Linked DNA regions of Homo sapiens: region 1 is linked to region 2. Evidence: fine-mapped expression QTL. A gene starts in region 2. The other region holds a variant in brackets. All regions are shown on one strand. Distances are from middle to middle. Region 1 holds the start of LOC105373024 (a long non-coding RNA gene). Region 2 holds the start of ELFN2 (extracellular leucine rich repeat and fibronectin type III domain containing 2).

Evidence for each region. PIP is the estimated chance that this variant, and not a neighbour inherited with it, causes the effect.
Region 1: its variant is fine-mapped to the expression of ELFN2 in liver (GTEx, PIP 0.94).

Annotation. Positions count from the first base shown.
Region 1 is chr22:37,321,502-37,333,543 of GRCh38, forward strand. It overlaps LOC105373024 (a long non-coding RNA gene), which reads right to left and starts at 10,635. Exons shown (of 4, transcript XR_938232.3): 1 at 10,392-10,635. RefSeq lists enhancers at 5,816-7,015, 7,463-8,108 and a silencer at 9,007-9,301. The variant A/G (reference allele first, on the strand shown) is at 5,348.
Region 2 is chr22:37,423,011-37,435,052 of GRCh38, forward strand. It overlaps ELFN2 (extracellular leucine rich repeat and fibronectin type III domain containing 2), which reads right to left and starts at 4,469. Exons shown (of 3, transcript NM_052906.5): 1 at 4,288-4,469.

The sequences.
Region 1 (12,042 bases), 100 kb before region 2:
ACCGCATGTTCTCACGTATAAGTGGAAGCTAAATAATGAGGACACATGAATACTAGGAGAGGGACAACAGACACTGGGGCCTTCTGGAGGGTGGACAGTGGGAGGACGGAGAGGATTAGAAAAAAATACCTGGTGGGTATTATGCTTATTACCTGGGTGACAAAATTATCCGTATACCAAACTCACATGGCAGTTTATCTATATAACAAACCTGCACATGTATCCCAATCCTAAAAGTTAAAAAAAAACCTAGACCAAGAATTCCTCTACCTGATAATTTTGTAAACATTTCAGAATATTTCCAACACACCTGTTATGTCTCTGCAATGATACTGCAAATGCAGTTTTGTAACCTTAAGCCAATTTTTTTTTTTTTTCTGGAGACAGATTCTCGCTCTGTCCCTGAGGCTAGAGTGCAGTGGCACAATCTCAGCTCACTGCAACCTCCTCCTCCCAGGTTCAAGCGATTCTCCTGCCTCAGCCTCCCGAGTAGCTGGGATTACAGGCATGCACCACCACACCCGGCTAATTTTTGTATTTTTAGTAGAGGCGGGGTTTCACCATGTTGCCCAGGCTGGTCTCGAACTCCTGACCTCAAGTGATCTGCACGCCTCGGCCTTCCCAAAGTACTGAGATTGCAGGTGTGAGGCACCATGCCCGGCCTAACACTTAAGCCTTAAAACTATGAAATCCGGATGTCCACGTGTATACCAGCCAGGACAGGTTAGGTTACACTGTGGCAACAAATATCCCCAAATCTCAGTGGCTTCACACACCACAAGAGGTTATGTCTTGCTCACACCCTATGCCCTGGGATTGCAGGGTAGGGATCGGCATGGAGTCTCTGCTTATCATAGTCACTCAGGGACCTAGGCTGAGGAGGTGCCATCCTGGCATGAATTGCCAGGAGCGCTGTCTGGATGTGACATGCCACTTCCGCTCACATTGCATTGGCCAAAACATGTCACATAGCTACCTCACTGCAAGGCCAGATGAAATACCATCCTACCACCGGCCATGCAACATGGGAGGACAGTAATACTTGGGGTGTGGCACTAGTGCCGATTATAGCTAGGGTGACCAATTGTCCCCATTTTCTCAGGACCAAGGAGTTTTCCAAAATGCCGGCCTTCTTGTGCTAAAATTGGGAAAGTCCTGGGCAACCCAGGAGGACTTGTCTGCTCCTATTGTACCACGTTGTGCGGTCTTTACACACTCACTTTTCAAAACTGCACAGCAGCCATCTTTTAGATGAACCAAGGTTTCTCTCCCCAGTCCCCTATTGCTGGAGACTCAGACTGTTTCCAGTATTCCATGTTTATAAATACATTGTCTTAAATACCTCCATGGATAAAACCATGTCTACTTCTCAGTGGCTTCTCAGAGGTGCCATTGGTGGCCGTTTACAGGCTCACAATACCTGTTATCCATAGGTAATTCAAAAAGGTTGAAACAATACAATTTGCCTTCTGCAGCGAAAGCACGTACCTGCTTTCCTTACCTTCTCCTGGAGCCCAGAGCAGTCATTCTCTAATTGTAGCCTCCAGCTCACCTGGAGAGCTCCTTAAAACAGATTGCTGGTCCCTAGCGCCAGAGTTTCTGATCCACGGGGGCTGGGATGAAGCCTAACCTTTGCGTTTTTGTGTGTGTGGTTTGTTTGTGGGTTTTTTTGTTGTTTGTTTGTTTGTTTGTTTTGATGGAGTCTCGCTCTGTTGCCCAGACTGGAGTGCAGTGGTGCAATCTCGGCTCACTGCAAACTCCAGCTCCCGGGTTCAAGCGATTCTCCTGCCTCAGCCTCCTGAATAGCTGGGATTACAGGCGTGTGCCACCACACCTGGCTAAGTTTGTATTTTTAGTAGAGACCGGGTTTCTCCATATAGGTCAGGCTGGTCTTGAACTCCCGACCTCAGGTCATCCACCTGCCTCAGCCTCCCAAAGTGCTGGGATTACAGGCATGAGCCACCGCGCCCGGCCAGATGCCACCACTTTGCCACCGAACAGGTGACCCTGCTCAGCTACTCACCAGAGGTCTAACCTGGAGCAAATTATGCAATTAGCCTCTCTTAGCCTAGGTTCCTATCTGTGAATTGGAGCAGTTGGGAGGATGGACTACCAGGGTAACCATGAGTTCAGTTAAAAATAGTTACAGTTATTCAGCGGTAAATTAAATAACTTTATGTTTTAAAATATTTGTGAGTTTGAATGGAACTGCATTGATTAACATTTGTATTCCTTTCATATCTGAGTGGGAATGGACTTTCTCCCTGTGAGGGTTAAGCATTTGTGTTTCCTTTCTAGTGTGAATCATCGCTCCTGCCCTTTGCCCATTCACCTGCAGGTTTCTCTGCCTTTCCTCTCCGTCTGCCTGGGATCATTACAGAGCAAAGATAAACCCCCATGGCCGTTCTTGATTGCTAGAGATTTTTCCAAAGCTGTTGCTCACCTGTCTGCTGGGGCCATTTTTCTGGCTTACAAAGTGGCCGAATCCATCTGACTTTCCCATTTTTATTTTCTCTATCACTTTTAAGCTTAGATTGGAGCCCTTCTCCAGAATGTGACAATATAAAGGAAATGGATTTTGAATGATGAGATTTCCTGCACCTTGAGGGGTGGTGGGGGTGGGGGATCCTGGCTCAACTCAAACCCTGTGGTGGTGATAGAAGGCATAGTCAGAAACCAAGAGCCCCTCAGCACCAGGACAACCCACCACCCTCAGCTCTCCTCGACATTAGCCACGCTGTCTCTCTCCCCATTTGCAGAGTCCCCCCGCAGAGAGGCACAGGGCAGGCCAGAGCTGGATGCGCGGCTGGAAGGTCAAAGGCATCATCCTCAGGTTGGAGACAGGATGACCGAAGGTGTAAGAACTGGCCAGAGGAGTTGGACAACTCCCAGCTCAGGTCTCTCCTCGACTGCTTTGGCCGTGTGAGCTTTGCCTCTCTGGGTCTCTGTTGTCTCATCCATAAAATGGGCCTGACCATGCCCAAGTCAACGGAAGGATTTAAATAGATCAGCGCCCTGAGGTCGGTGCTGGACGCCGAGTACACGCGCCCAGTACACAGGGCTTGAGCTCATTACACGCCCCAGTTCTGTTCCTGGGGTGGTGGCGTGAACCCCACTGCCTTTGCCTTTAATTGCACTGAAAATATCCAGCACCGCTGATATCAAGGGCCCAGGTCCCGGCGGAAATGAACTCCCAGACTTGGGCGCCCAGGTTTCCGTGCGCGACCCCAGCCCCTCCGGCTGCAGCTCAGCCCATCGGCCCTGCGCGGGAACAGTGTCACCCGGGCACCCGGGCCAGAACAGGCCACGCGTGTCCCAGGAGCGCGGGAAGCTCCCACGCCCCCTCCCCCGCACCGCTCCTTTGGCTGGCAGAGCGGGTCCTCAGCGCGTCTCAGCCGCACCAAGCGCCTCCCGCTCCCGCGCCACCCGGGCGCGCTGCTGGGGCCTGATTTCCATAATAATCAGCCAGAGATCTCCCGAAAAGGCTGGGAGCGGCCGCCGCCGCCCACCGGGGAAGCTCCCGAGGGTGGGCGCCCCCCTTCCCACCCTCCCTGCCGCCGCCGGGAGGGAGCCTCGTTTTTAAAAGCTTTCGAGAAACCGTCCGTGCGCAGGAGGCAGCTGGGAGACACCCAGGATGTCGTTCTCCGCATTAAGGAGGGGGACGGCGGTGGGGGAGGTGGGAGAGGCCGCGGCGCAGGTGTAGACCAGGCTCAGAGGCAAGGAGGGGAGGAGGGAAACTGAGGCAGCCGCGGGGTGGGGAGACGTTTCAAGGTATATTCTCACTGCAGCCTCACGGCGACCCTGCGGGTGAGTTATCTGCTATGCCCCACTTTACAGGTGGGGAAACTGAGGCCTAGAGAGGTTTCCAGTCTTCCAAGCTGGCAAGTGGCTGGGCGGGGACCCTTTTCCGAGTTGGGGGATTCAGATCCCCTGGCCTGCCCGGCACACTGCCTCCTGCCCAAAATGGGCAGCGTAGAAGCAGGATGCTCTGTGCATCCCAAGATGGGAGAACCAACCCGAAAGGGAAAGACCAGGGGGCTGAGGTCCGGCACACACTTGGAGCTGATCTGGTCCAGAAGCCCGTGGGCTCGCAGAACCTAGTTTGAACCCCAGCTCTGCCACCTCCCAACCATCCCCCAAGGGGTGGGCAAACTACAGCCCCTAGGCCAAATCCTGTCAAACTGTTATGGTACAACCAGAAACCAAGCATGTTTTTTTTTCTTTTTTTTCTCTTTTTCTTTTTCTTTCTTTCTTTTTTTTTTTTTTTTTTTTTTTTTTTTTTTAGATGGAGTTTTCGCTCTTGTTGCCCAGGCTGGAGTGCAGTGGTGCGATCTCGGCTCACTGCAGCCCCTCCCTCCTGGGTTCAAACAAGTTTCCTGCCTCAGCCTCCCAAGCAGCTGGGACTACAGGCACGGGCCACCACACCCGGCTAATTTTTTTGTATTTTCAGTACAGATGGGGTTTCACCATATTGGCCAGGCTGGTCTCAACCTCCTGACCTCAGGTGATCCACCCTCCTCGGCCTCCCAAAGTGCTGGGATTACAGACATGAGCCACTGCACCCGGCTAGGTTTTTTCTATTTCTGAAGATAAAAAAAAAAATTCCTGACATGTGAAAATTATATGAAATTTGAATTTCCATGTTCATCCACTTTTTTAATTAAAATACAGCCACACCCACTTATTTCTGGTACTGTCTATGGCTGCTTTCCCTCTACGGTGGCACCGTTGAATAGTTTTGACCAAGAAGCATGGCTCGTAAAGTCAAAAATATTTACTATGTAGCCTTTTCCAGAAAAGCTTTGCCCATCCCTGCAATAATGGGGCAACGATGAAGCCTCTACGCCTCGGTTTTCTCACCTGGACAGATGGGAATGCCATTAAGTGAGGATGAAGTGAAGGCTGGGAAAGCCCTGAGCACAGTTGGCAGCACCCATCTTAGAAATGCCTTTGACCGGCCCGGTGCAGTGGCTCACGCCTGTAATCCCAGCACTCTGGGAGGCCGAGGCAGACGGATCCCCTGAGATCAGGAATCCAAGACCAGCCTGAGCAACATGGAGAAACCCCATCTCTACTAAAAATACAAAATTAGCCAGGAGTGGTGGCGCATGCCTGTAATCCCAGCTACTCGGGAGGCTGAGGCAGGAGAATCGCTTTAACCCAGGAGGCAGAAGTTGCAGTGAGCTGAGATTGTGTCACTGCACTCCAGCCTGGGTAACAGAGTGAGACTCCGTCTAAAAAAAAAAAAAAAAGAAAGAAAGAAAGAAAAAGAAATGCCTTTGACTTTTGCCAAGCCCCTGCTGCTTGCTGCCTCCCCATCCCGAATCACGGCTACCTGGGTGGATGC[A/G]CTTTGAACTCAAGATATTCATCCCCTGCCCCCATTCATCCTGCTTGTCCTCACTCCAAGCTTATCAACCTGGCCTCCAGCCACCCTCTCCCGTCAGTGACCCAGCCTGACCGGTTCCACCTCCAGCACCCAGCACAATCCCTGCCCCACACTGGTTCTTAGCAAACATTTTCTTTCTCTTTTTTTGAGACGGAGTTTCACTCTTGTTGCCCAGGCTGGGGTGCAATGGCGCAATCTCAGCTTACTGCAACCTCTGCCTCCTGGATTCAAGCAATTCTCCTACCTCAGCCTCCCAAGTAGCTGGGATTACAGGCATGCGCCACCATGCCCGGCTGATTTTGTATTTTTAGTAAAGATAGGGTTTCACCATGTTGGTCAGCCTGGTCTCGAACTCCTAACCTCAGGTGATCTGCCCACCTCGGCCTCCCAAAGTGCTGGGATTACAGGTATGAGCCACCGCACCCGGCCTCAGCAAACATTTTCTAGATGGATGGATGGATGGGTGGATATTTTGCAGTCTTTCTCCATTCCTTCAACTCTAGCCTCCATCATCTCCTTCCAGGTCTCCCTGCTCCCCCCTTCATTTCATCCCCGACTCTGTAGCCAGGGTCACCTGCCTCCTCCCTGGATCCCCAGTGCAGCACAGGTGCTGAGCCACCCCCCTCCACCAAACACCCAAACTGCTAGCACTTCCCTGAGCCCAGCAGGTTGTATCAAGCCTCCAGATGTTTGCCCATTCAGTTTTCTCTGCCTGGAACCTTCTTTATTCCCAGTCCAATGGGCTTTGCATCCTCTACTTGACCCCCAAGACTTAGTTCAGGACCAAAGCCTTTGAAGCCATTCCAGGTCTCTCCCCCTTCTCCCACTGCCCCAGTATACAAACCTATCTCGGTACCAGTGGGACTTTGGTACCTTTATGAATATGCATGAGTTTCTCCTGGTGAGCCTGTGAGCCTCTTGAGGGCCAGAACTGTGACTAGTATTTCTTTTCTTTTTTCTTTCTTTTTTTTTTTTTTTAAGACAGAGTCTCTCTCTGTTGCCCATGCTGGAGTGCAGTGGCACAATCATGGCTCACTGCAACCTCCACCTCAAGCGATTTTTCTGCCTCAGCCTCCCAAGTAGCTAGGATTACAGGCGCCCACCACCACACGCGGCCAATTTTTGTATTTTTAGTAGAGATGGGGTTTCACCATACTGGCCAGGCTGGTCTTGAATTCCTGACCTCAAGTGATCCACCCACCTCGGCCTCCCAAAGTTCTAGGATTACAGGTGTGAGCCACCGCATCCGGCCTATGACTAGTATTTCTGAATCACCAGTCCCAGCAAAGGCATGCCGCGGAGAAGACAATAAATTTTTAATAAATGAGTCAACGGAGGAAGGAAGGAATTAATATAGCTGGGATCATCTCCCTCCCTGGCTCAACAACTTTCAGATGCTTCCCAGGTTCTCTCTGTCAAGGCCCAGCCTGGTCTTCAAGTCTTGAAGCCCTATATGAAATGGCTCTGGTTCACCCCCGCAACCTTGTCTCAAGCTGCATCTCCCATACAGTCTTCCCGAAGCAGTCCTGGCCTCCAAGCCTCCATTCATGCAGTTCCCCCTCCCTGTTTCTCCTCCTTAGCCTACCCACATTTGTGCCTGTGGGGGCCCTGGCCATCCTTGGAGATCTTACAGGGCTTCAGCAATCCAGGGGCACCTGCAGTAGGGACCAGCTACCCCATTTCCCAAATCCCACAGCAGAAGGCAGTGAGCAGGGGCTTTGACCAGGAGGACCTGGGTCCCAAATGAATCCTGCCAATGTTTACTATGGAGATGTCAATTCGGCTCTTGGAGTAAAGAGGAAGAGTCCCTTTTACTTGTCTCCTGGGGCTGCTGTGAGGTTAGAGATACTGTAACCTCTCTAGCGCACAGTAGGTACTCAATAATGGACAGCTATTTCCAGCCTGTACACAACACTTCTGTCCTTCTGAGAGGAGGCTCAGAGAGCAGACCTACAGCTCCCCGCAACCTGCAGCCCCAACCTCTCTCTCTCTCTCCCTCTTTCTCTCTCTCTCCCTCTCTCTCTCTCTCTCCCTCTCTCTCTTCCCCTCTCTCTCTCTCTCTCCCTCTCTCTCTCTCTCCCTCTCTCTCTCTCTCTCTCTCTCCCTCTCTCTCTCTCCCTCTCTCTCTCTCCCTCTCTCTCTCCCTCTCTCTCTCTCTCCTCCTCTCTCTCTCTCTCTCCCTCTCTCTCTCCCTCTCTCTCTCTCTCTCTCTCTCTCTCTCTCTCCCTCTCTCTCTCTCTCTCTCCCTCTCTCTCTCTCTCTCCCTCTCTCTCTCTCTCTCCCCCTCACCCCCGACAGTGCCTGCAGCCACCGACTGATGCTGGCGTGGACAGAATGACAATGAGGCCAGGACCTAAGCGAGCCCATCTGGGAACCTAAGACTGTGGCAGAGGCTCAGATGAAGCCAGGGCTTGGGAGGGGCTAGACAGGGACGGGGCAGGCAGGCAGGGCAGAGCAGGGATAGGAGCAGGGCAGTGATCTGCCACTGACTGTACAGCTGGGTGTCAGCTTTCCCTTCTGCCCAATGGGTGAATCATTCCCCCTCTCAGGTCTTGTCCTGAGTACCAAGGGCCAAGTGAGAGTTTGGGATGAAGAGGGACAGAGCCAGGCAGGGCAGGAGCCAGGGAGCAGGGCAGCGGCAGGGTGGGACCAGGGGATGGGGTTCACGATGGAGATGGGGCTGGGGCAGGGACCAGTCAGATTTCTGATTCAGAGCAATTCAGATTGCTTGGGCAATCAATCGGACAAAATCACCCCCAGGGCAGGAAAAGAGACAGTGAGAATATTGTTGGAGGGGGTGGTGCGTGCAGGGAAGAAGGAAGAGGGAGAGAAAGAAGAAAGAAGGAATCTGAGAAGAGACCGTGGAGGGGACGGGGAGAAACCATCCCCTGCTGGAGTCCTGGAGGCAGCCCCACTGGTGCCAGCCTTCTCCTTTGGCCGGTGGGACCTCTGTGGCCAGAGGGCCAGGGACTCACCCAGGCCCCAGTGAGGGGGAGGCAGAATGGACAGAATAGGTGGGAAGACGGGCATGGGAAAGGGGTAAAAGGGGAGGTAGGGTGTGGTTGGCACAGGCCTGCATAGCTAACAATCAGAGAGACGGCCGCCCCTCCTTTTCGAGTCCACATCACAGGTGGAGGGGCCAACTCTTGCCACACGGCCAGCTCATTCCACCTCATTGCCTTTGCCCAAGCCAGTGCCCTGCCTGGGGTGCCTTTATTTCCCTACCCTCACCCCAAACATTTAATCCTCCTCCCTAATTCCTCCAACATTCACCCCAGCCCTGATCTCCCTCAGCAATGACTGTCTCACCCTCACCCTCAGAGCTTGGTGTGAGCGGGGTTACAGTCTGGTGGTCCAAGGATGCTTGCTGGTGTCCCATAAATGTGCTTAGTCCTCACAAGCAGCATGGACGAGCATCACAGCCTGGTGGTTAGGCTCACAGGCTTGGGACTCCACTGGGCCAGGTTCTAGTCCCAGCAGCTTCGTTTTCACATAGTAGTTGCTTCATAAATGCTAGGTCCCCTCCTCCTGTTCCATTGCTAGCTCAGAATGTGCACACAGCAGGTGCCCAGTGGTGGCTTCTGGGCTGAGGTGCCCTTCTGTTCCCTAGTGGGCCCCTTGTCCCTGACAGGACACAAAGATGTCACCCCTGCCTTGGCCTCCAGGCCCAAGCCTGAGCAGTGAAGCTTGGGAGAAAGGCCCCATTGCTCATTCCCCTTGAGTCTGCAGCTTGGGCAATCAATCGGTCGCCATGGAAACCAGCCTTCCAATCAGAAGCAGGCACTTCTTGGCTGCGCCAGCGCCACCTACCCACCCACTCAGGCCTGGCTGTGCGGTCCCTCACCTAGGACTGCCAGGGGTTGGGGGCGGGGAGGAGAAAAGGGAAACTGGCATAATTGGGGCACACCTGCTTCTATCCCTAAAGCCCTGAGAGTCTCCAAAGAAAGAGCATTTTCTTGGGGTGGGGGTCACTACTTCAGTGGCCCCCTGATTTTTACAGCATTCATTCCTACAGAGTATGGCCCTTGGTACTCAGAACAAAACCTGAGGGGAGGGAATGATTCACCCATTGGGCAGAAGGGAAAGCTGAGACCCAGCTGTAGGGTCAGTGGCAAAGCTAGGTGCATGCCCCCTCCCTGAGCCCCCATCTCCTTCCCCCTCCTCCCTGGCCTGAGGAATGGGACAGGGAAAGGAGGGGCAGAAGAGTTCCTGGCCCACTGCAGCCAGCACCTGCCTTCCCACTAAATCTACGCCTGGCACTTCCAGGGCCCATTAGCGCCGGGCCCACCAGGGCCCATTAGCCAGCATCTATGGGCCTCTGCACCCACCTGCCCACCCACGCCCAGCTGCAGCCTCCCGCCCAGGCCCCTCCTTCCCCCACTGCCAGCTGGGATTGGACAGAGCCCAGGCTCTGAGTCACACAACCCCACGTTCAACAACTGGCTCCTCGCTGCTGAGACTAAGCAAGCCAGGAAACCTCTCTGAGCCTCAGTTTCTCTGTTTGGAAAATGGAAAGAATTACTCCTGCCTTACAAGGGAGTGATGAGGACTCAGAGTGCATAAAGAGCTTAACACAGGGCCTGGTATGGACTCAGTAAAAGGGAGGCCACCTTCCCCATCCCTGTTCCCTCTCAGTACCCAAAACTGTCCCTTGGAGCTGAGCTAAGGCATCCACCTGCCAGGAGAAGGTAGAAGACAAATTCTACTATTCTTAATAACCAGCCCAGGAAAGCAAATTACAAATAAGATTTAGAGAAGGGCAGCAACTTGCCCCCTACCCCAACACTGGGAGGGATGGGTAGGATTTGAACCCAGGTCTGTCTGACTCAGACCTGAGCTGTCTCTGCTGCAGCCCAGCCTCTCCCGACCCTGACCCAGCCCTGCTCCAGCCAGCCAAAGCCTGTCACCCTGGGCCACTAGTGCCCAGCTCTGCACTGACAGAGCACCTGCTATGAACTTGGCATGCCAGGTGCCCACCACCACATACAGCACCCCCAGCACTTACAGGGCTGCAGAAGGGAAGTCGAAGGGATGTTGAGTCATGCTGGGGGATCTGACCTGGTTGAGGATGCTGGGGAGACTTCTGGAAGGAAGGCGGAGGCTAGACCAGCTCCCAGCCACCACACAGCTGGTGCTGCCGCCTGCTGTTTGAAGCTTTTGCCCTCTCGGCCTAGAAGTCTCCCATTATGGTGCTGTGTCTGCTGGGACCCACGGGGCGCTGCACAGGGAACCATGTGGCCGTGAACCTCAAGTCCAGCCCAGCAGGGGTCAATTGTCTCAGCCCACCCCTCCCTACCCCCAGTATCCTCTCTCCTTTATAGATCATCCATTAAGTGCCAGACACTGCAGAAGGCACATTGACTAATATTAAATATTAGCCCAGCTACCCTGCTGGGCTGTCCTTCTTAGAAATGAGGAAGTGGAGGGTTAAGTGGATTTCTCAAGGTCGTGCAGCTGGTAAATGGCAGAACCAGGATTTGAACTCAGGTGTGCATGACTTCAAAGGAAGACACCACTGAGGCCTCCTCTACTGGGTCTGCCTCCCTACCGCCCCTGGCTCCTTGATGAAGACTCCTGTAGGACAGGATGGAGCAACTTGCTTCCAGCTATTATGAGATTTCTGCTTCTCCCTTCTCTCCTCCAGAAAACAAATTGATTCATCAAATTACACCTTTAATCTGTCCTAGGGAAGGGGAGGAATGGGACTCAGCCCCCACAGCAGGAAGCAGGACGGGTAATCAGCCCACCCGTCCTCCCCAGCTCAGGCACAGCCACCCATGCTCTATCCTCCTGTGATTAAACACTAATTGCCGCTATGCTCTCAAATTGAGTATTTCAATTTCCAGAAACGCAAAGTACATTTCAATCAGTTCCTCTCCCAAACCGTTCCTTCTCAGGAGCCAGGACAAGAACATAAGCCCCCCAAGGCCATAGACAGCTAAGCCTCACTCCTGTACTCCTGCCGTCCCTCTCCCCCGCAACCACCGCTTCTCTCCTTCCCGGGTACCCCGTGGGGGAGCTGTGGGCACTCGAAGTGTGTGGGAGCATCCAAGAGACCCTACAATTGTCAGCTCAGAAAAGTGAGGCAGGCCCCCCCAACCCTGGGGTCAGACAAGGGGATGGGGACTGTCCACTAGAGGCAGGGTCCAGGCTGCCTGCTCCTCACCTGCCCCCGACCTTCTCCCTGCACACGGTCATTAGACGCTCATCCCAGCCTTCGGAGTGGACAGAGGCTGGGCAGGAATCCCAGTGGGAGCAGAGACTGGCGGGATGGACACCTGGCCCTTAGTTCCAACTCTGCTACACATCTCCCCTCTCTGGCTCTCAGTGTCCCCATCTGTCCCAGAAAGGGGCTGGGGAGGGGCTCACAGTCGTAGCTGGAAGGTATGTGCTTCCCAGGCACAGGCCCAGGGCCAGGATCCGGCTGGCTGCAGATTCCCCTGGGGGTTCTGAGGAGGGGCCAGAAATTGACTTTTTTTTTTTTTTTTGACGGAGTCTTGCTCTGTGGCCCAGGCTGGAGTGCAGTGGCACGACCTTGGCGCACTGTAACCTCCACCTCCCGGGTTCAAGCAATTCTCCTGCCTCAGCTTCCTGAGTAGCTGAGATTACAGGCACCTGCCACCACGCCCAGCTAATTTTTGTATTTTTAGTAGAAA
Region 2 (12,042 bases):
CCTGCCCCTGCCCTTTCCACAAGCAAGATGGCCAGGTGGGGAGTCCAGGGGGCCACAGCTGAGGCCACGATAGACTCGGGACCTGAAGAAGATACTGATCCTGGGGCAACCTCCCCACTGTCACCCGGGGGAGCCCTCCAAGCGCTGCTGTTCGAGGCACTGTGGGAGGGCCAGGGAGCAAAGGGCTGCCTTTGGGGGTGTCCCATCTCTGTGGGGAATGGGATGGGGGGTTGAGATGCAGGCACCACCCACGAGGCCCCTCCTTTCCTGTCTCTCCTTGCAGCCAAAGCAAAGGGCGTCCGCCACCCCCAGCTTCCCTAGGGCAGGGTCACTGCACCCATTTACAGATAAGCAAAGCAAGGCCCAGAAAGGGCCTTCAGTGAGAGGGGTAGGCCAAGATGTAGAGGCCTCCAGGCCCATCTGGCAAAGGAGTTCAGCAGCCAATGGTGCTGATGTGAGAGTTTCCCTTCGAGGGTTCCAGTCCTGGTTCCATCGCTGTGTGGCCCTGGACTGGTCTGTAACCTCTCTGTTTCTTGTCTTCAAAATGAGGAATAATAATAGTGCCTGCTGCAGCTGGCTTTTGTGGGACTAAACGAATGCCGCCCATAAAGAGCTTCGAACCGGGCCTGGCTCTCAGTAGGGGCTCAATAATATTAGCTGATATCATTATTATTATTATCACTATAGTTATTACTATTTCAATCAGCAGCATCGTGCAGCCAGCACCCTTCCTCTGGCACCCCAGGCATAAGCAAGCCTGCCCAGGTGGCTCTTGAGTCCTCAGGGCTTCTCTGGGGCTTTCCTGGGGACTGTCGGCAGAGCTAGGGGGAAGGAGAGGGGGCTCAATTATTCCAACCCCCAGACACCATCTCCAGTAATAATGTCAATGCCTCTGCCCCAGGTGGTAATTGAGCCAAGAGAAGGTTAATTTAATCAGGGATTGGGCTGGGACGGCAGGAGGCAGAGGACTGGGTAAACCTTCTAGACGATTAACACAGCTCCTGAAGAGGTCTAACTTGCTAAGAAGCGTCAGGTTTCGAGGCAATCCTACTTCTCGGCCATCCACTCCACACAGCACATGTCACAACATGGGGCAGGTGGGGGCACCGAGAGAGGAGCTTGGCCCCCAGGCACTGTGGCCGGAGCAGGTGAGGGTAGCAGCAATGTGTGCCTCCCAGCCCTGCACACGGTTGTCACCCTTTCACACTCACACATCACACCCGCAAGGGAAGCTGCCACCACCCTCTTACAGAGACAGGAGAGGCTGACCTCTGTCACACACAGCCAGGATGCAGATGCGGCAGGGGTGTCACTGGAACCCAATTCTGCTGCCAAAAACAAGCATCCTACAAGACCTCAGGGGATATTGAGGAACAGGCATGGAGCCCCCAGTGACCGCCCTAGACACGCCCCACTGGAGAAGGCTTGCTGAGTGTGCCCGTTCCTATCACGCTGACTGTTTCTGGAGCTTGTGGGTGGAAGAGCAAGAGAGCACTGACCTGGGAGTCAAGAGCAGCCTCTCCTCCAGCCAGAGACTCTTGGCCTTGGGCTCATCACCTGGCACCCCACCACCAATTCCTCATAGCTCCATATCTCTCCAGGAAAGGAAGGTACCCCTCGAGAAGGGGCTGGGTAATCAAATGTGTCTCCCTGTAGCCACTGAGGGCGGCGGGGGGGGGGATGGAATTCACATTAAATCAACAGACAGCTTATTCCAGAACTCAGTTTACTCATCTGTCAAATATCCACATAATAGTGGCTAACTCACCCACCTCAAAGAACTGCCGTGGAAATCCAAGGAAAGAAAAGAAAGTCCTTTGCAAAGTTAGACTTAAACCAAAACAGGAAAGCAGCTACTCTGGGCTAGGGGGATAGGAGGTGAGAGGACAGAGCTCACGTGGACTGAGCCCCCACCATATGCCAGGCATCAGCACCCGCCCCCCACAAGGCCCATGGTCTCCTTAACCCCCTTCACCTCTCTAACCCCTCACCCCATGTTACAGAGGAGAGACTGAGGCTCAGAGAGGCGACGCGAATGCTTAAATCACAAAACACAGAAAGCAGCAAAATGGGATTCGAACCAATGGCCTCACGCTCCCTGGCTATGGCCATTTTCTATTGTCACATGCACTGACACACTCACTCATTAAAGCACATCCACCCAGGGGTGGTGGGCCTGGCTGGGATGAAGAGGAAAACAGGGACTGGGGAGGTCAGATAGGGGGCTGCAGCACATTGGAGGCCTCCAGGCCCACCTGGCAAAGGAGTTCAGCAGCCAATGGTGCTGATGTGAGAACCTCCTTCGGGGGTTCCAGTCCTGGAAGGTGCACTCTTCAGGGGGCAGGACTTAAGGAAAGGGGTCCCATGCCCACTCAGGATGCTGGGAAAGGCGGCCTCTTGGGAGGGACCACGCCACGCGTCCTAAGGCTCCATCCCTCTCCCCTTCCCACCCCTCATATACAAGAGACATAACCACACTCGGCCACACACACTCCCGTGACATCACATTTACACACTCTGGCTGGGGGGAGCAACCTCCGACAAAACTGTCCCAGTGACGTCACCTGCGGCCTGGAGCTTATGTCACACCTGAGGTTCTCACTGACCTCACATACATACTTTTTCCTGATGTCCCCACAATTAACACTCTTTCTTCCTGCCTAGGCGTTGATGGCCCAGAGGTACCCACCTCCCCACCCACACAGTTGCAGGGCCCCCGGCTCATCAGGACAGCACCTGCCTGTGCACCCCTCTCAGGGGACACACATGCCCACATGCTTTGCTGATGGCCCAGACGTGACACGTCCCACAGGTGTCCACGGGCCACGAGAACAGGGGTGTCAGCCATGCACATACACATACACACACACACACACACACACACACACTCCCAGTCCCATCTCATGATGCAACTTGCATATTAAAACGCCTCTCGGTAACCGCGCCGGGCAGTCCGCGCCCCACAGCTTCCACCACATTCCTCCAGGTGCTGCCAGCACCCCACTCCCTCCAGCTTTCTGACTCCGACAGCCTGGCCTGCTGATAGCGACAGCCGCAGCCCAGACACACACACACACTCCAGCCCAACACCTGCGTCTCAGCAAGGGACCAAGGCAGTGCCCTCCAGCCGCAGCTGCTGGGTGGGAGGAGTCCAGGGGGAAGGGGCACAGCACAGAGCCCTGAGCTGCAGAAAGTGCCGAGTACCACGTTCCTCCCCAGCTGAGTGCACGGTCAGCACCACTGTCCCCTTCTCGTCTCCCTCCTTGGGCACGCCTGACACACCATGGCCTGTGGCCTCTGTTTTGGACACAAGCTCCCCGAGTGTGCATGCACACGCGCGCGCGCGCACACACACACACACACATCAGCTCCCTTCCCTCCAAACATTCCGAGGAAATCCTGCCAGGCCACTGACAGTGTGCGTGTGTGCGCTTGTGTGTATACAGACAGAGAGCAGGGTCCACCCCATGTCCACACACACACGCACACACCACACACACACAGCACGCACAATCCTCTCCACATGCACACGGCGCCCCACCAGCCAACACACCCACCCCCTCCCCGTCCCCTGACAGCTGCTGGAGCCCACACACGCACGCACACACACACACTGGCACGCGCTCGCACACACACACAAACACACACACACACACACACCCGGCAGTGGCCCCGGCCCTGCCAGAGCTGCAGTGTCTGCGATTTATGCCGCCTCCCTGGGCTGCCTCCCTCCTTGTCCCTGGCCAGCGCCTCTGAAAGGGTCCCCACCCCCCAATTCTGGTCTTACCAACCCCACCGCCGTCAAGCCCCACCCTGGCCCCCCTTCCCCTAGAAGGCATCCACCCCGTCAACCCCTCTTACCAGCTAGAGGATGAATGCCTTGACCCGGCAGCACCCCGTGAAAGAGAGGGGTTAGGGCCCCCGATTCGAAAAGATGAGGGCAGAGAGGTGCAGTGTGGCACCGGCTGGCACACCGTCCACCATCGAGCCTCTGCACCACCCCCAGAAACGCTCACCTCACCGACCGTCCTCGGTGTCCTCCCACCGCCTCCGCCCACCGCCACCACCACCACCTCCCTCGCGCAGGGTGGTCCCCCGGGGGTCTCACGGGGATCCCCAGACCCAGGAGACACTGGGGGTGGCTCTCCCCGTCTCATCCCCCCTTCCGTGTCCCTCTCCAAGCCCCACCCCCACTGACGGAGGGGGTGCCCTCCGGCTCCAGCCCCGACTCCCACCGTCTCCCCGGTCGGTCGGTCGCGGCGCTCGGATCCAGAGGAATTCACTTACCCCAGCCCCAGCCGGGATCCGGGCCAAGCACCGCCTCCGGGAAGCGGCGGCCGCGGGGCCTGCGCGTGTGAGTGTGAGTGTGAATGTGAGTGTGAGCGCGGGTGTGGGTGCGGGGTGCGTGGCCGTGGGGTGGCCCGCGTGTGTCTGTGTGTGTGTCTGGGAGCGCGCGTGTGCGCGCAGACGCCGCCGCCCCCTCCTCCCCGCCGCCGCGCCTCTGCCCCTGCCTCGGCGGGGAGGGCGCCCGGGAGGGGCCAAGCGGCGCGCGTCAGGGACCGCGGCAGGCTGTGTCCGTCTGTCCGTCCCCGTCTGTCCGTCCGCCAGCCCGCCCGCTCCCGGTGCCCTCCGCAGGCCTTTCCGCAGCAAGCCCGCTCCCGCCCCCGAGCCGGCCGCACGCTCCACGGACACACGCGCGCTCGCAGACACACGCCCGCGGGGCTGGGGCCGCGCCTGGCGCCGCCGCTGCAGCTGCAGCGCCCGGGGAGGCGAAGGCGGCCCCACGGACCCGAGCCCCGGCCTGGCGGACCCCTGTCCCGGCCGCGGCCCCCTGCGCTGCTCACCCCGCGGGATCCGGGTCCGGGTCCGGGTCCGGCCTCCGCCAGCGCATTCAACAGCTGGGGGCAAACTTGCGGCGGGGCCGCCCGAAGTGCGCCTGGACTCGCCCTCCCCCTGGACTCCGCCTCCGCTGATGGGCCCCCTCTCCGCCTTGTACCTCCATGCCCTGCCGCCTGCGCCCTGCTGGTTGGTCCCGCGTTCAACCGCTGGCGACTGGGGAAGTGCGGCTGCTGCGTTCCCATTTTACAGGCCAGACAACTGAGGTTCGGAGAGGAGTGATTCCCCCAAGGTTACACAGGGAGCCTACAGACAGTATTAGACTTTACGCTCCCCTACCTTGTGCCAGGGCACTCACTGCCTTTCCCCACCCCTCCAGGAGTAGGTCCAAGGGATACTGGGCTCATCTGTAGCTAGAGAACCTTCATTAGCCTTCCAGAGGCCCAGTTCCCCGCCCCTTACGCCAAAGCCCCTGCCACCTGCTGCCACCTGCAAAGGGGTGGATGCTGGGAGGAGGAGGAGGAGGTGGAAGATGCAAGAAGCCTGGCACCCGGGGCCTATAACTTGGTGCTTGGGCATGCAAGCACCTCCTCCCGAGGCCCTGCGAGCTGCATGTCGGAGGCCTGCTGCCAGCAGGCCCTGTACTTCTCCATCACTTTTATAGGACCGCATGCACCAGCGCCTGTTCTCAGGTGTTGCACAGCAGATGAAGTCCAGGCTGCGGGAACTCCCCGTCGGGACATCTCATGCAGGTCTGGAATAAGGAGACTCCCCAGAAGAAGCCACTGCCTGAGCTGAATCTTGATGGATGAGTAGGAGTTGGCCAGCTAAAGAAGGAGGAGAAGGGTGTCCTGGACTCTGGGAACAGCATGTGCAAAGAGGCACAGAGGCATGAAACAGCTTTGTATGTGTGTACAGGGAACTCCACGGAGTTGGGTATTAGTAGAGCAGAAAGAACGTCTGTCCAGAAATTCCTCCCTCCTTTCAACTAAGAACAGGGAACGGCCCAGGATGGGGCTGGGAGGGCAGACAAGCACTGGGTCACAGGCCACTTGTTGTCCTGGGGTATGCAGAAGGACTATTGGGCGTTCCCCACCTGCACCCCAGGCTGCCTGGCACACTCCTACCCATCCTTCAAGGTCCCTCGCTGCAAACCCAAACAAGCCATGTGCTGTCTCTGCCCTCTAAACTGAGCCCTCCTACAGGGCAGGGGCGGTATCCAACACATGGTGTGTATCCCTGACAAGGCTGGGCAAGAAGCAGGGTCCCAGCTCCAAGACCTTGCTGGAAGAGCCCCTCAGGCGGAACATAACGGCCTCTGCGCCCTCTGGCGGATCCCTCGAGAAATTAGAGTGCTCCCCAAGCCAACAGCCCCCCTGTGGCTCTCAGGCCCAGACACTTTCTGAGATGGGCACTGGCAGATGCCACCTAATCCGCTCCTGCCCAAGAAACTGAGCAGTGATGACCCCAAAGAATACCAGGGAGTCAGTGGCAAAACAGCCTCTTGCTGCTCTGTTTCCGAGACATTCCCAGTCATCTTCCAGAGTGCAAGTCACAACCCTCTCTGAGCCTGTTTCCTCCTTTGTGAAAGAAATATAGCAAAAGCAGCCAGTACCCCCAGCACAGTGCCGGCCACTCCCTTCTCCCTGGAGACCTCCAGGTCTGGCTGGATTTGGTCAGAATTTGTTTGAAGCTCTAAAACGGTCTAAGAATCTCCCTTTGGAGACTTTGCCCTTACTGGGCAGATGTACATTGACAAGAGTTTCAGCTCTTAGCTGACTTTCTGCCACCATATAGAAGATAGAGTTGGCCTGGCCTGAGGGTCATAGTGGACCACACCATCTAGACACTCGACTGGGCTTTCTCTAGACCATAGTGGAAAGGATACATGTCTGCACTGTCAAAGACAGTAGCCACTAACTGCATGTGGCTATTGAGTGATTGGAATTGTGGCTAATGTGGCTGAGGAACTAAATTTTTAATTTTAATTGTTATTACTTTAAATTTAAATAGCCATAATGTGGCTTGTGGCTGCCATGTGAGATAGTGCAGCTCCAGACATATAGCAAGCTCCTTATTAAAATCAAGCCCAGGCAGACCTAATGCACACACACAAACACACAGACACACACACAGGGAACCCTGAGGACCTGGGAATGCGGGGAGCGGGGAGCTCAGGAGACTGCCTAGAATCCGTAGCTGAATGGTTAAGACCGAGACAAACGTAAGCAATAACATGTCCATTCCCACAGTCACTGCCCCAGACCAGGCTTGCCGTCACCTGGATACCTGCAACAAACTCCCTCACCACCCATCTGTTTAAACCCTCCAGTAGCTCCCCAGAGCCCATGCACAGAGGCAAATATGTTCTCTTTCTCATGACAAGTGATTGGCAGCAGCTGCCTAGAGGTGCTCACCCTTTGCAGAAAATGGCATGATCAATTGGTGATGTCTGCCTCAGGAATAAATACAGAGATGAATGGTAAGCCCTCTCTGCTACAGGATAAAATCCAAACACTATTTATTTATTTATTTTAGAGACAGTGCCTCTCTCTGTCACCCAGGCTGGAGTGCAGTGGTGCAATCTCCACTCACAGTGGTGCAACCTCCGCTCACTGCAACCTCCGCCTCCCAGGTTCAAACTATTGTCCTGCCTCAGCCTCCCAAGTAGCTGGGATTACAGGCACCCACCACCATGCCTGACTAATTTTTGTATTTTTAGTAGAGACGGGGTTTCCCCATTTTGGCCAGACTGGCCTCAAACTCCTGAGCTCAGGTGATCTTCCTGCTTCAGCCTCCCAAAGTGCTGGGATTACAGGCATGAGCCACCGCACCTGACCAAAACTCCAAACTCTTTAACTTGCCTAAATAAGGCCCGTTGCAGTTGGTCCTTATTTATTCCTCCAGCATCTTCAATATCATCCCACATATGTTCTGGGTCCCAGCAACACCAATATCTGCCCTTTCCAGACTCACTTTCTGCCACCATATAGAAGATGGAGTTGGATCTGTCACCCCATCATCTTCACACCTTTGTGCTTTTGATCCTGTTCCCTTGATGTGGGAGGACTTTCCTCCTCTCAGATCCCTTCCCTACCTGTCTACTTTCTACCTATCCTCAGGTACTGCTTGAAAGCCGCCTCCTCAGTGAAGCCTCCCCTGACCACTCCTAAACTGAGCTGGCTGAGCTACTTCCTTCTCCACCGGCTCCCAGAACACTCTGCAAGGCTTCAGTGACAGCACACATCACATCATGTCATTATTCATTCTCTATGTGTCCACCTCCCCCAGCTTATTCTTCACTTGGTCACCTCTATCAAGTAGCAACCATGTGTCAGGGGCTCGCTCAGGGCCAGGCACTGTGCAAGGCCATTTTCACACATTATTCTTATTAATAAGCCACCAATCTAGACGTTAGGAGGTTCTCTTCCGGGCACACAGCATCCACCCCCCCTTCCCACCAGCGCCCTAATTTCTCCTCTCCCCACCACCATGGACAGTCTTGGAGGAATGTGAATCCAGGTACCACTTCCTGCCCTCAGCTGGGCTAATTGCGCTGTGGGTGGAGTGACGCGTGCACAGGAAAATTAACCGGAGCAGAACCATCCTCGAAATGTCAGTGCCAGGTGACATGGGTGGGCTGGGCACCTGCCCTGCATCCCAGAACCCCATCTGCTCGGCCTTCTCCCAGAGGTGCACAGGAGCTGCCCCTGGCTGACAGCTCACCAGAAAGTGCCCTTTATTTTCAAGGTGAACAAGCATGGCCCACATCCAAATGATCCCACTGCCCTGGCCACGTCACTAGAAAGACATTTTTTCCAGAAAGTCGTCCTTTCTTCAAAGCTTAGAGAACAGAGGAGGAAGAGTGAGAGGAACATAGAAATGCTAAAAGCTTCACGCATTGTTTAAGGTGAATAACAAGATTTACCCTTTGTACTTAGGTGAAATTTTCTTCACTTGGTCTCAGTGGCATTTTGAGTTGATGCTAAGAAAATTAGGTTAAAGTGATTCTTTCAGAGAAACACACACACACACACACACACACACACACACCCCAGAGCTTGTGCGGGGTGTCACATTCCTCCTTTGGATCCAGACCTAAAATCACATTTCTGTTGCGCCTCCAGTACTGGAACTGAGGACATCAGCTCGCTGAGGACAGGAGCCAGTGGTGAGACAGAGCCTGGAAGAAAAAGACGGGCCTGGAAGGCAAAGCGTGGTCCTTGCCCACGGTGGAACCCTGCCAAGTGGACTAGGAAGAGATGGGGGCTGAGCTGCCTTCTGGGGAAGGTGGGTCCTCTTATCTAGGAGTGTTTTGTTTTTCTGGTCACTGTGACAGGTCAGGGCATGCAAGGATGAAGGTAGTTGTCAGATGCTGGGGCCTGGGGGAGAATGAGTAGGAGAGAGAAGAGACCACAAGTCGGGAGGAAGGTGACAGGGAGGGAAGCCGACCCGCCCAGGAGGCCTAGTTGCGAAGAACACATGTATTTCTAGGAAGGATTTTGACATTCTTTTGCTGTGGTGTGTACATTACGAGCCCCCTCCCCCACTTCAGTCTCCCTACCACCTCCTTCCCCCCACTCCCTTCAGAAAAGTCTGCGTGTTTCTCCTATGAGTCATTTATTGCTTTGTAATGAATTACCTCAAAACTCAGTGGCTTAAATCTGCAAAATGACATGCTTATTATTTCACAGTTTCTGTGGTCAGGCATTTGGGAGAGGGTGATTCAGCCTTGAAATGTCTCATAAACTTGCAGTCAAGATGTTTAGCTGGGGCTCCACCCATCTGAAGGTTGGACTGGGGCTGGCGGATCTGCTTCTGAGATGCTTCCCTCACGTGGCTGGCAGGGTGGTGTTGGCTGTTGGTGGGAGTCCTCTGTGTCTTGTCACATGGACCTCTCCATAGGACTGTTTGAGTGTCCTCACAACATTGCGGCTGCTTTCTCCAGAGTGAGAACAAGTAGGAAGCCTGTGTCTCTTAAGACCTGTCCTCAGAAGTAACACTCATTTTTGCTTTCCCGTTGGTTCCATGGATCTGACCCATTCATTGTAGTGAGGGGACCACACAGGGGGTGGAGCCCAGGAGGGAGGTACCATCAGGAGCCCTCTTGGGGGCCAGTGGTTTTGAGATCAATCAATTATATTTGGGGAAGTTGAGGAAGTTCTGTGTTCTGCATCCAGACTATCAAAGACGAAAACAGAACTAGAGGAGTGGCAGCCAACACAGGATGGCCTGATTCCTTAGGAGTCCATGATTCTGAGAGCCTATGGTCTTCATTGTTTATAGACCAAGGGCAGCTCAAGGCTAATGATGCATAAAGAATGTGCATAAAGACCCTAGGGCTGGACAAGAGTCAAAGGTGGCCGAAGGTGTGGCCCCAGTGAGGGGGTGCCTGTGAGGACCAAAGGCCAGGGCCACACTCTGGGGGATATTTTGAAGTGTCCACGTGGATGCCTGTAGGTCCAGAGACCCAGCTATGGGAGGGACCCCAGAGAACCCTATTAGAGGTGCTGATGGCACCCTGCTTGCCTGGCTGGGGCTGAGATGACTGGATGGTGAGGTTTGCCAGGCTGCCTCCCCGCCAGTCTTGGTAGAGCAGCCCTGGAGTGTGCTGTCAGATAGGGAGGGGACAGGAGGACAATGGGGGACACCCCTTTTGACACACCGGCTGCCTCCACTAGAAGGTGAGCCATTTTCAGCCAATTCAACCATCTAATCCAGATCTGTGCCATGGGTGCCCAGCCCCTTGCCAGTCACAAGCAGGTGCTTGGGGAGGGTCCTGGTGAGCTGCCCCACCCAATGGTGCAAGGGCCAGACCGAGAGTGTCCATCCCCCTCCCCCCAACCCCGAGGCCTGCTCCAACAGAAGCGGGATCTGCCGAGTGTTTACAGCCCCATGGCAGATGGCCTCCTCTCAGCTCTCTGAACCAGGAGACTCCTCTGAGACACCCCCAGGGAGAGCTGGAGGAGGAGGAAGGAAGGCTCAGATCTCTGCATCTGCCTGACTTATTCTGTCCCCTAGCCAGAGGCCACTGCACCCCGCACTATTGTGTGGCTGCCATTTGGATCTGAGCACCCTTGCAGGGAGCTCTGGAATTCTGCGGGAGCCACAGCAGGGGGAGCGGAGTTAGCCTCAGCTGGCTCAGCGGCTACGAGGTCAGCCCGGCAGCCTGCATTATTAAACCATCTATCTGGCTCCCTCCAGGGAGATGCTGGGGGTGGGGGCAGGCTGCTGCCTGGGTCCGGAACTGGGGCAGCCGGCAGCTCCTGGGAGCTGGAGGTCACCGGCCTCATGGCTGGGCTTGTCACTGCTGACCTGCTGCCGGCTCCGAGGTTCCAGATGCTGTAGGGGCTAGAAAGGAGCTGACTGGCTGGTTTCTTCATGTTCTTTTTTCTGCTCAAAAACTTCTGGTCTCTGACTCCACAGGGTAAAGCGCCAGCTCCTTACGCTGGCATCTGGAGTTTTCTGCAACCTGGCCACACTCTTCCTAAAATCGTAATAATAGCTCAAAAAGGAGGTGTTTACTCTCCTTCAGGCTTGGTGCCATGTGCTCTACATGAATTAAAGTCTCTGTGAATAATGACAACAATCTACGAGGTACTTCTGTTATTCTCATTTGACTGCAGAGGCTCAGAGATGCTAAGCAATTTGACCAGGATCACACAGTGAAGAAGAGGCGATGATTCCCCCAGGCTTTCCTGCTGATGCAGCCAGGCTGTGGCCACGAGACGCTGGGGATATTTTAGGCTCAAAGCCCCATTCTTAGCCCTACAATCGCTTGTCACTTCCCAGAGTCATGCCTTTCCTGAGGTTCTCTCACTGTAGAATCTGGGGGACTGACGGTCCCTGGGGAGGGGGATGCATTGTATATATTCCCAAGACTCCATGGCAAAGGGAGGGTTTGTGTGGCTGCTACCAAGTTACTCAGGCTCAAATCCCAGATGCTACCTGAATGCCACCTGGATGCCACCTGGGCTCCTGTCAGCTCTGCCTGCTAAACCTAGCCCCTCCTCTCTCCCTCACTGCCACAGAAGCAAAGGCAGGTGGGTCCCATTCACCTTTGCGTGCTCAGGGTCTGGCATGCAGATGGCACTCCAAAAATATTTGCTAAGGAAAATGATCAAGTGTATGCCTGCGTGAACAAACGAAGGAAGAAAAGAAGAGGGAGTGGCCAGCATGAGGAGAGAAAACGGATGGGTGAACAGG